Homo sapiens: one gene and its partner. The protein of the gene in region 2 interacts with the protein of the main gene of each other region in a biochemical or structural test. Each region holds a gene or a part of one and is shown on either strand. Other genes may lie near its edges. The genes, in order: GNAT1 and UNC119B.

The links.
Region 1: the proteins of UNC119B (region 2) and GNAT1 interact in a biophysical measurement, tested with the Homo sapiens proteins (one study listed by IntAct).

What each region holds. Positions count from the first base shown.
Region 1 is NC_000003.12:50,187,490-50,194,844, forward strand, and holds the start of GNAT1 (guanine nucleotide-binding protein G(t) subunit alpha-1), read left to right. Parts: upstream 1-4,120; 5' UTR 4,121-4,236; coding exon 4,237-4,342; intron 4,343-5,643; coding exon 5,644-5,686; intron 5,687-5,775; coding exon 5,776-5,917; intron 5,918-6,016; coding exon 6,017-6,174; intron 6,175-6,263; coding exon 6,264-6,392; intron 6,393-6,602; coding exon 6,603-6,732; intron 6,733-7,011; coding exon 7,012-7,165; intron 7,166-7,275; coding exon 7,276-7,355. Other genes in the region: SEMA3F (semaphorin-3F isoform 1 precursor), read left to right, coding at 216-626. UniProt on the Homo sapiens protein: Functions as a signal transducer for the rod photoreceptor RHO. Required for normal RHO-mediated light perception by the retina.
Region 2 is NC_000012.12:120,720,458-120,724,427, reverse strand, and holds the end of UNC119B (protein unc-119 homolog B), read right to left. Parts: 3' UTR 788-3,970; downstream 1-787. UniProt on the Homo sapiens protein: Myristoyl-binding protein that acts as a cargo adapter: specifically binds the myristoyl moiety of a subset of N-terminally myristoylated proteins and is required for their localization.

The DNA of each region.
Region 1 (7,355 bases), on a different chromosome or scaffold from region 2:
TCCTTATGGTCATCACTCCTGAAATGGAAATCTGTACAGATGCCTTATTCAAATATCTCTCATTATGTAGAAACTTCATGTGGTTTTTCTGGCATATGGAAATCCCACATGGGTGCCTCTACACGGAATGGCCACAAAGGTGGTCTGATCTGGTTGCTGGCTAGGGCCATAGGGTGGTCACAGAGCCTCTGAACCCCCTCTCCTTGCCCCTGCAGATTCGTGCAGAGGACCGCTTCCTGCGCACAGAGCAGGGCTTGTTGCTCCGTGCACTGCAGCTCAGCGATCGTGGCCTCTACTCCTGCACAGCCACTGAGAACAACTTTAAGCACGTCGTCACACGAGTGCAGCTGCATGTACTGGGCCGGGACGCCGTCCATGCTGCCCTCTTCCCACCACTGTCCATGAGCGCCCCGCCACCCCCAGGCGCAGGCCCCCCAACGCCTCCTTACCAGGAGTTAGCCCAGCTGCTGGCCCAGCCAGAAGTGGGCCTCATCCACCAGTACTGCCAGGGTTACTGGCGCCATGTGCCCCCCAGCCCCAGGGAGGCTCCAGGGGCACCCCGGTCTCCTGAGCCCCAGGACCAGAAAAAGCCCCGGAACCGCCGGCACCACCCTCCGGACACATGAGGCCAGCTGCCTGTGCCTGCCATGGGCCAGCCTAGCCCTTGTCCCTTTTAATATAAAAGATATATATATATATATATATATATAAAATATCTATATTCTATACACACCCTGCCCCTGCAAAGACAGTATTTATTGGTGGGTTGAATATAGCCTGCCTCAGTGGCAGCATCCTCCAAAACTTAGACCCATGCTGGTCAGAGACGGCAGAAAACAGAGCCTGCCTAACCAGGCCCAGCCAGTTGGTGGGGCCAGGCCAGGACCACACAGTCCCCAGACTCAGCTGGAAGTCTACCTGCTGGACAGCCTCCGCCAAGATCTACAGGACAAAGGGAGGGAGCAAGCCCTACTCGGATGGGGCACGGACTGTCCACCTTTTCTGATGTGTGTTGTCAGCCTGTGCTGTGGCATAGACATGGATGCGAGGACCACTTTGGAGACTGGGGTGGCCTCAAGAGCACACAGAGAAGGGAAGAAGGGGCCATCACAGGATGCCAGCCCCTGCCTGGGTTGGGGGCACTCAGCCACGACCAGCCCCTTCCTGGGTATTTATTCTCTATTTATTGGGGATAGGAGAAGAGGCATCCTGCCTGGGTGGGACAGCCTCTTCAGCCCCTTCTCCCCTCCCCGCCTGGCCAGGGCAGGGCCACCCCACTCTACCTCCTTAGCTTTCCCTGTGCCACTTTGACTCAGAGGCTGGGAGCATAGCAGAGGGGCCAGGCCCAGGCAGAGCTGACGGGAGGCCCCAGCTCTGAGGGGAGGGGGTCCGTGGTAGAGGCCTGGGGCCGGTAGAGGCTCCCCAGGGCTCCCTTATGTCCACCACTTCAGGGGATGGGTGTGGATGTAATTAGCTCTGGGGGGCAGTTGGGTAGATGGGTGGGGGCTCCTGGTGGCCTTCTGCTGCCCAGGCCACAGCCGCCTTTGGGTTCCATCTTGCTAATAAACACTGGCTCTGGGACTAGACTTTGGCTTCTCTCCTTGGTCAGGGGATTTAGAGCCACACGTGGTGGGCCTGGGGAGCCAGGTGGGGGGCTGGGAAGGGAGTAGATTGGCTCCATTTAAAGAAACCCAACATGTAGAAACCACATTTAGTTTGACAAACCTGGGCTGCTGCACCACCCCAAACACTTGGGTAGTGCGAAGGGCTGTAGAGACCCCTCAGGGCCCACTCACTCCTCAGGGTCAGGGAGGGTGGGTGGAGCCTGAAGGCTGAAAGTGGCAGAAATGCAACGGCCTCACTCCTGGACAGATCCCCATCATCCAACAGGGTGGGTGTAGAAGCTGCCAGCCTGTGGTAGGAGCCAGCATTCACTTCCCACGCATACTATTTAGAGACAGCCGTTAGTGCTCAGTGTCTGGTGCCCCGGCACCCCCTTGTGGTCTCTTGAGTCTGTGGCAGAGTTGAGTGCTGAAAGGCAGCCAGGTTCCAGGGAAGAGTCCAGCCAGGAGGCTCAGGGTGCCTGGAGGAGCCTTTGAGAGCCCAAGATTTGGGTTTTCCTATGGAAGTTGAGGGTGGGAAGTCTCTAGAACCTGGGAGCTCAACCTGAACAATTTCTGCCCGGCAGTGAGCCCTGCACCTGAACAGAGCACCAGACCCCCTAAGCTGAGGCAGGCAGGCCCTGGAGATAATCTTAGGCAGGCCTCAGAGCACCCACAGCAGACAGAGCAGGAGCAGGATAGGTGAGCCCCATTCCTCCATACCCCAGGGAACACTACACCTGCTCTGGGATGCAATTTCTCCACCTGGCAACAGGCCTGCAAAACATTCTCTGGAAGAGCCTGGCCACTTCTGCAGATTAGAGACTTTGTTGCACCCAAATTCAAGTGTACATATAGGCACAGGCGCCTGCAAGCATGCATGCACACACACAGTCATACACAGGCAGAGATGGACATGCACAGGCACACATATGCTCAGGTACAAACAGGCATGTTTACACCCCTGCGTATAAGCAAGTGCACACATGCAAACCTACACAAACTGCAAAACACACAAGCCTATGTGTGCATGAAGAGAATACACAAAGCATATTCACACATGCATACACATGTGTATACATGTGCACACATACATAAGCATGCGCACAGGCACGTGATTCCTATAAGAGCACATGCACTCACAAAGGCATAAACATGCAGGCACACATGTACACACAGGTATTCATGCACAAATGTGTCAAGTTATTGCTCGCTTGGTGCCAGCAAAAGACACACCCATGGCCGGGCGAGGTGGCTCACACCTGAATCCCAGCACTTTGGGAGGCCGAGGTGGGTGGATCACAAGGTCAGGAGATCGAGACCATCCTGACCAACATGGTGAAACCCCGTCTCTACTAAAAATACACAAAAAATTAGCTGGGTATGGTGGCACATGCCCGTAATCCCAGCTACTTGGGAGGCTGAGGTGGGAGAAGCTTAAACCAGGGAGTTGAAGGTTGCAGTGAGCCAAGATCGTGTCACAGCACTCAAGCCTGGCAACAGAGTGAAACTCTGTCTCAAAAAAAAAAAAAAAAAAAAAAAAAAAAGGCCAGGCACGGTGGCTCATGCCTGTAATCCCAGCACTTTGGGAGGCCGAGGCGGGCAGATCACGAGGTCAGGAGACTGAGACCATCCTGGCTAACACGGTGAAACCCTGTCTTTACTAAAATACAAAAAAAGTAGCCCGACGTAGTGGCGGGCACCTGTTGTCCCAGCTACTCAGGAGGCTGAGGCAGGAGAATGGCGTGAACCTGGGAGGTGGAGCTTGCAGTGAGCTGAGATTGCGCCACTGCACTCCAGCCTGAGCAACAGAGCGAGACTCCATCTCAGAAAAAAAAAAAAAAAAGACACATACACCGAGGCACACAGAGCAGATATGCATGCCCACCACAGTCCGCTGGAAGCAGAGGACCTCCTTGGGGCAGCTCCAGCCTGTGATATGGGATGAATGCAATGCCCACTGTTTCCCTCTCTCTGGATTCCCTGCAGGTCATAAAATCCCAGTCCAGAGTCACCAGCCCTTCTTAACCACTTCCTACTGTGTGACCCTTTCAGCCTTTACTTCCTCATCAGTAAAATGAGGCTGATGATATGGGCATCCATACTCCAGGGCCAGTGTGAGCTTACAACAAGATAAGGAGTGGTGCTGAGCCTGGTGCCGGGCAGGCAGCAGGCATGTTTCTCCCAATTATGCCCTCTCACTGCCAGCCCCACCTCCATTGTCCTCACCCCCAGGGCTCAAGGTTCTGCCTTCCCCTTTCTCAGCCCTGACCCTACTGAACATGTCTCCCCACTCCCAGGCAGTGCCAGGGCCTCTCCTGGAGGGTTGCGGGGACAGAAGGACAGCCGGAGTGCAGAGTCAGCGGTTGAGGGATTGGGGCTATGCCAGCCCGATTAGAAGGGTTGGGGGGGCTGAGCTGGATTCACCTGTCCTTGTCTCTGATTGGCTCTTGGACACCCCTAGCCCCCAAATCCCACTAAGCAGCCCCACCAGGGATTGCACAGGTCCGTAGAGAGCCAGTTGATTGCAGGTCCTCCTGGGGCCAGAAGGGTGCCTGGGAGGCCAGGTTCTGGGGATCCCCTCCATCCAGAAGAACCACCTGCTCACTCTGTCCCTTCGCCTGCTGCTGGGACCATGGGGGCTGGGGCCAGTGCTGAGGAGAAGCACTCCAGGGAGCTGGAAAAGAAGCTGAAAGAGGACGCTGAGAAGGATGCTCGAACCGTGAAGCTGCTGCTTCTGGGTAGGGGTGTGGGCCCAGGTGGGGCCACTGCCACCAGGTCATTGGTCTGGAGGCAGGCAGGCAGCCCTTCTGTGAAGCAAGGATTCCCTGGGAAGCAGTATGAGCCTGTGACAGAGTAGGGCACAGGGTGGGAGCCCTGGCCAAGCAAGGCCAGGCCTGACAGGTGGTGTCCTAGTCCCCCAGGGCTGGACATCCCACAAAGCCCCTCTCCAGACGGCTCTGCCTCAGGTGACCCACCCTCCCCAGAAGTGCGTGCCAACCACACTCTTGCACGGGTGTGTGATGCCGACTTTTCCGTGGCTGGGTTCCCGCAAGCTTCATGCAGCCTTTGGTTTGATACGCCTGCTAGGCAATGCTCAGAAGCCAGGAGCCTCACTGGGAGCCCGTTATTGGGCTGCTACTTTGGGAAGGGGATGGCCATAGTCCTCCTGGGAGTGGGGAGCCTCTAGGACCACCCAGATCCACAACGAATGGCCCTCAGGTGCCAGAGGGCTGTGGCTGATAGACCTACAAAGCAGCCAGAGGGGCTGGCGGGTACTGAGGCCCAGTGGGAGTAGATAAAGCCGCGTCCACTGGACCATGGGCACTGAGGAGAGATGGGGCTGATCCAGGCCTGCCTCAAGGTCACTGCCTGACCTCTCAAGGGGAAAAAGCAGCTTCAAGAGGGGCTCCACCCAAGCTCCCCAGGGTCTGGTCAACCAGCTGGAGGTGGGTGAGGGACCAAGCCAGTCCCACTTTCCCCCAAGGCAGAGAGGCTAAGCCGGAAATCTCATTAACTGTGCCCAACGCCCTCGCAGGGGCAAGCTCAGAAAGGATGTCAACTCTGCCCTCCCTCCTACCCAAAAGAGCTAATTCCCTCTGAGCCTCCTGGAGACACCTGCACCCCTTCAGGTGAAATGCAAGGGGTTTACCCGCCTCAAATAACCCAGTGCTTGCGGTACCAGAGGCTCCCACGAGGTGGCGATGACGCTCCGGGATTTCTTCATTGCAGTCTCACAGCATAATAAAGGCTGCCTGTGCCGGGGTCTTGGGGACTCCCCTGTCCCAGAACAGTTGAGGTCGTTGAGTCCCCTCGTTGGCTTCCTTTCTTCACTTTCCTGGCATTTGCAAACCTTGTGACTTCAGGATGTCAGGACTTAATTTGGATGGGGGGGTAGGTGTGGCTACGGGGTCGGGGCTGGCGCTCAGGCCTCTTCGCTGCGGGTCCACCCTGCCAACTCGGGAGGTCCCCGTCCTCCTGGCCTCCTTGCTGGAGGGGGCAGGCTGGTCAGCGCAGCTCTGAGGCGCCGCGTCTCTTTCAGGTGCCGGTGAGTCCGGGAAGAGCACCATCGTCAAGCAGATGAAGTGAGTGCCCCTGCCTGTCCCGAGGCCCCTGGGTCTGGGTCCTTCCCCACTTCCCCACGAGGCGCTGATTCTGCTCTCCTCGGCCTCAGGATTATCCACCAGGACGGGTACTCGCTGGAAGAGTGCCTCGAGTTTATCGCCATCATCTACGGCAACACGTTGCAGTCCATCCTGGCCATCGTACGCGCCATGACCACACTCAACATCCAGTACGGAGACTCTGCACGCCAGGTGTGCCAGGAGGCGGGCTGAGCGGGCCTCTGGGGACTCGAGGCTCGCGGCTGGGCCCGAGTCCCTGGCCGCCACCAGCCACTCTCACCCTGCCCCCAGGACGACGCCCGGAAGCTGATGCACATGGCAGACACTATCGAGGAGGGCACGATGCCCAAGGAGATGTCGGACATCATCCAGCGGCTGTGGAAGGACTCCGGTATCCAGGCCTGTTTTGAGCGCGCCTCGGAGTACCAGCTCAACGACTCGGCGGGCTAGTGAGCGCGCGGGCAGCGCGGGGCGCGGGGCGCGGGGCGCAGGGGGCCCTCCACGCCTCCCCACCCACCTACGGCCGGGTCTCGCGCAGCTACCTCTCCGACCTGGAGCGCCTGGTAACCCCGGGCTACGTGCCCACCGAGCAGGACGTGCTGCGCTCGCGAGTCAAGACCACTGGCATCATCGAGACGCAGTTCTCCTTCAAGGATCTCAACTTCCGGTACGACCCATACGCTAGCCCAGGAGGTCACTGCCCCAGGCCCCGTCCTGCCCCGGGGACCCCATCCCTGCGATAGACCCTGCCCCTTCCCTGATACCCCGCCAGCAGAAAGGGTGGTAGTCCCGGCCGAGAGCTCCCCGACCAGCACAGGGCGAAGGGATGTTGCCTGTGGGGCCCGGGGCGCAGGTTCAGGCCCCCGCGGCCCCGCAGGATGTTCGATGTGGGCGGGCAGCGCTCGGAGCGCAAGAAGTGGATCCACTGCTTCGAGGGCGTGACCTGCATCATCTTCATCGCGGCGCTGAGCGCCTACGACATGGTGCTAGTGGAGGACGACGAAGTGGTGCGTGCCAGGCAGGGCCTGTGTTCCAGGGGGGCGAGGAGGAGCTGCTGGTCCCTGGAGGCGGAGACCGCGCGCTGGGCTGGGGGAGGGCACGGGAGGGGATGCCTGTCCCGGGCGGCCTGAGGAGGCCCGGAGGCGTTCAGCAGGCCCATCTGGGGCAGTGCGGGGAGCCCTCTGAGAGCCAGCTGAGCGGGAAGCCCCGCGTGCCCGGGAGCCCAGAGAGCAGGTGCTGCGGGTCGGACGCTACCCCGGGTGCCCAACAGCTGCTGCCCTCCTCAGAACCGCATGCACGAGAGCCTGCACCTGTTCAACAGCATCTGCAACCACCGCTACTTCGCCACGACGTCCATCGTGCTCTTCCTTAACAAGAAGGACGTCTTCTTCGAGAAGATCAAGAAGGCGCACCTCAGCATCTGTTTCCCGGACTACGATGGTGAGAAGTCCGCAAGGCCGCCAGGCGGCGCCCCCGCCCCACGATCGCGGCGCGCACCCCCCGCACGGGGAAGGAAGGGCTGAGCAGAGTGAGAGCTCCCGCCCCCGCAGGACCCAACACCTACGAGGACGCCGGCAACTACATCAAGGTGCAGTTCCTCGAGCTCAACATGCGGCGCGACGTGAAGGAG
Region 2 (3,970 bases):
AGTATCCAAGTTTTCCAATAGAGACAGAATCAGATAGTGGTTGCAAGAGGCGAAGTGGGGGAAGTCACCTGGCTGCAAACACAAGGAACTCAGGAACTTTCTGAGTGGGTACGATGGAAATGTCCTATATCATGATTGTGATGGGTAATAAAAGTATTCATTTGTCAAAATGCATCAATACTCTTAATTGAGGTAAATTTTACTGTAGTTAAAGTATTTCTTAATAAGCCTACCTTTATGGCCAGCCACAGTGGCTCACACCTGTAATCCCAGAACTTTGGGAGGCCAAGGCGGGTTGATCACCTGAGGTCAGGAGTTCAAGACCAGCCTGGCCAACATGGGGAAACCCTGTCTCTACCAAAAATACAGAATTAGCCGGGCGTGGTGGCATGCACTTGTAATCCCAGCTACTTGGGAGGCTGAGGCAGGACAATCACTTGAACCCGGGAGGCGAAGGGTGCAGTGAGCCACCATCATGCCATCACATCCCAGCCTGGGAAAAAAGAGCGAAACTCCATCTCAAAAAAAAAAACCCTACCTTTAAAACATGCATGTAAACTTTCAATTTACAAAGCCACTCACCCTGGGAAAATATAAAGCAAAAATATTAAGCCTAAAGTCCAGTACAATTCCTCAATCACCCTAGAAGCCAGCTATACTCTAGTTCAACTACTTACAGAAGGGCCACATAATAGCCAAAGTAAGAGAAACCTGGAGCCCCCATTCGCCCCTGCTCCCCTCAGCAACACAACGGGCCCAACAATCAGGAGACAGGACGAGGGAGACGTACTGTGAAAATCTTTCTTTTATTACTGTCTCATGTGGCAAAATAACATTTTATACAAATAAGTCACCTAGTTTACTTTGGACACAAAGACAATAAAAACTGGAATGTGATTTTGGGGGAAGCGGGAAGGAGGAGGAAGGACAGATCAGGTCATTGATGTTTCTTATATTCTGTAAAAAATAGATTTACAGGAAAAAAAATAGACTTTCACAACTTCAATGACTTTACACGGTCCTTTGTAAAACCAGTGGTAAATCCACCTCCACCAAATCCTTCTTGAGGCTGATATGTTCTGTGACATGGAATGTGAGTAACACAATGGTTCAATGATTAGGCTCCTACACCAGGTACAGCAGCACCTGATGCCACAGGAATCCTCGTGCACTGGGGTGAGGAGTCAGTCCTGTGAATTTCAGGACACACTGTCCTCATCCCCAGACCTCACTGACATCATAGTGACACTGGCCATCAGAAGAAAGTGACTTTACAGAGGGGAAAAGAGTATCCTGGAAGCGTACCGGTGGGGCAGGACACACTAAGGCAGGACTCACCCAGTTTGTACATTAGACACAGCCTATTAAATCCATTCCAGAAATGAGTTCCACTTCAACTGAAAAAATAAACTGAAGATTGCCCAATCACTGCCATTTCACAAATTTCCAGTTTATGGTCAGCCCCAAAATCACATTCTTCCACCCTATGTATTGGAAATCAAATGGCCCAAAGACTGAGGTGTCTTCAGGAAGCACATGCTTGAAAAATGTTTTCTCTGCAAAACAGTATTGAGTAATACATAAGGAGACATAGCCTACTTTAGCCCAAAACTTCTTTCACTTGTTATGTCCTTTTACCTCTTAAAACATAGAATGAAATAAACTCGGATCTTCTTTGGAGAAGCTAGAAGGGCATTTTGGCCCAAAGGCTGTACAGGAAAAGAGAGGCTCTCTCCAGGAGACTGCAAGGCAAAGGAACAGAAGCAGGAGGGGCAGGCCCTCTGGCACCAGGTGGGCCTGCTACTCTGATGAAATGTGCTCCCAGCTCTTGACAAAGGGCAGGGTCTCCTATGCAGGTAGTTTTTTTGCCGCCTCCCATTGTATCACCCACAAGGTAACTGCTATCAACAGTTCAGATTCCTTAATAACATGGCAGCCTGAATGGTTCTGTTACTTTCAGAGAAAGTATGCCTTGCAATTCTCTCCCCAACTCAGGTACAAACGCTTGAATTTCAAACTCATACTGGTTTACACCCCAGAGTGGAATGCTTCTCAAGATTTCCTGAGCAGCTAGACACAGGAACCCACAGCCCCAGATACAGAACACCAGACTTTCAGAAGCAGCAAAGCCCTGTCCTGCTGGGCATGGACCAAGCACTATCCGCAAATGGTCTCCAGTGAGACTAAGGCAAGCTAACAAGGAAGAGGATACAGCACAACTCAAGCCAGATTGCCCACCTCCTCCTTCCTCCACATCCTCTTTCTAGCAAAAGCGAACACTGCAGATAAGAGATAGCCCACTAATGTAGCAGATACAGTGTGCCCAGGGGCATGTTTCCAAGACACACTCTACTAAGCACAGCTCTGGGCAGCTCCAGAACCACATCCCAGATAATACTCAAATATCAAATAGTAGAAACTGTCCCACCTGGGCCTCTGTCAAAGAGAGAAGGGATTGTTGTTACGCTTGACAGGAACATGCAAATCCCATTTGAGGAGCCACAATGAGAAACAGAAGGTGAGGAGACAGTGCTAACAGCCCTGGCATCTTTCTGCCAGTGAGGAGGTGGGAACAATGGCAATGCAGCTTTCCCCTGCAGCATAAGGGACAGAGCCACACGTAAGGCACCTGGATTTACAGTGGACGCCAGTTCTGAGAGTGGCCGGTCTGGTGATAAGGAACCCACTCCACAGGAGGAATGGTCTCTCCCCTCTCTCGGGGCTGAATCCAAGGCCAGCACACAGGGGTAAGCTAGGACCTTCTCAGTGAGAAAGCTGCCAGCATGTGGCATTGCCAAGACTCTGGCCTGGGACAAAGCACTGGGCCAAGGTTCGGGGCCACTCGCCCTAAAGCCCACACAGGGAGCAGCACTGGTGGTGGATGGACAGGAATTTCTGTGGCCACACACTGTCTCTTCCATCCCTGGCCCCCATACGGCCTTTCTCCCAAGCACATCAGGACACTCTCCTGTCACAGGTACTGTGACACCTCACAGTCACTTACCAGATACCTGGGCCTTTCCTAGTGACATCCTTCTACTGATGCTAACTGGACCCTGGCCACATCAATCGTCTCATCAGAGGGTTTGTGGAGTCTGTCCACTAAGGGTCTGAGGACAAAAGCAGCCCACAGATGTGCAAGTGAACTTTTTTGAGAACACATCACTCTGACAGGCCACATCAGCCTATTTTGCCCTTTCTGAACACCTAAAACAATTCTAACTAGCAGTCTGAAGGCTCAGACTGCATTACGTAACTCTGATCCACCAGGAAAGTTCCAGAAACTACTTCAGTAGAAAGGTAGATAGGAAAACCCTCCTAAACAAGAAATGTACAAAGAGCTTCGGAGGCAAATCCCCATCAAAAGCCAATCCTCCAGGCTGTGCAGTGCAGAGAAAAGTCAAATCTCTCCTTTAGAAAGCTGCTGCTGATTCGTAAGCATATCCTCCCAACATAAGCCAGATTAGCCCCTGGAAGCTGATACTATCAGAAGTCTAACCACATATCACATATGCTGGGAACACCACTGTCATTTTATAAAACCTCCCCGAAAGAAGTCTGGAAATAAAAAAACAAAATACAAGACCTGCTCTGGCCTCAAGAGATACTACTGTTCCATGAGCAGAGCTGACTCATTCTATTTCATGAGACTCAGAAGGGAGGAGCCAGGAGATGTGGAGCAAGCTTGTCTGTCCTCCAAAATGGGAACAGAAGGCACTGCCAGGCTGAAAACTTGGTCTATTCCCAGGAGGGCTGGCTGAGACCCTGGAAGTCAGACAGAGCAGCAGCCTCTCCACAAAGCAGACCCTTCAGCTTGGCAGCATCACCCATTCCTTGGTGCCTCCACTCTTGGCACCTCCCTCCCTCCCCACCCTTTCAAGTGTCTTCCAGTTGGTTTAAGACTTCACACAGACCGAGGGCAGACTGCGCTGATGGCAATGCCGGAGGTGAGAGGAGGAGCTACCTGGAA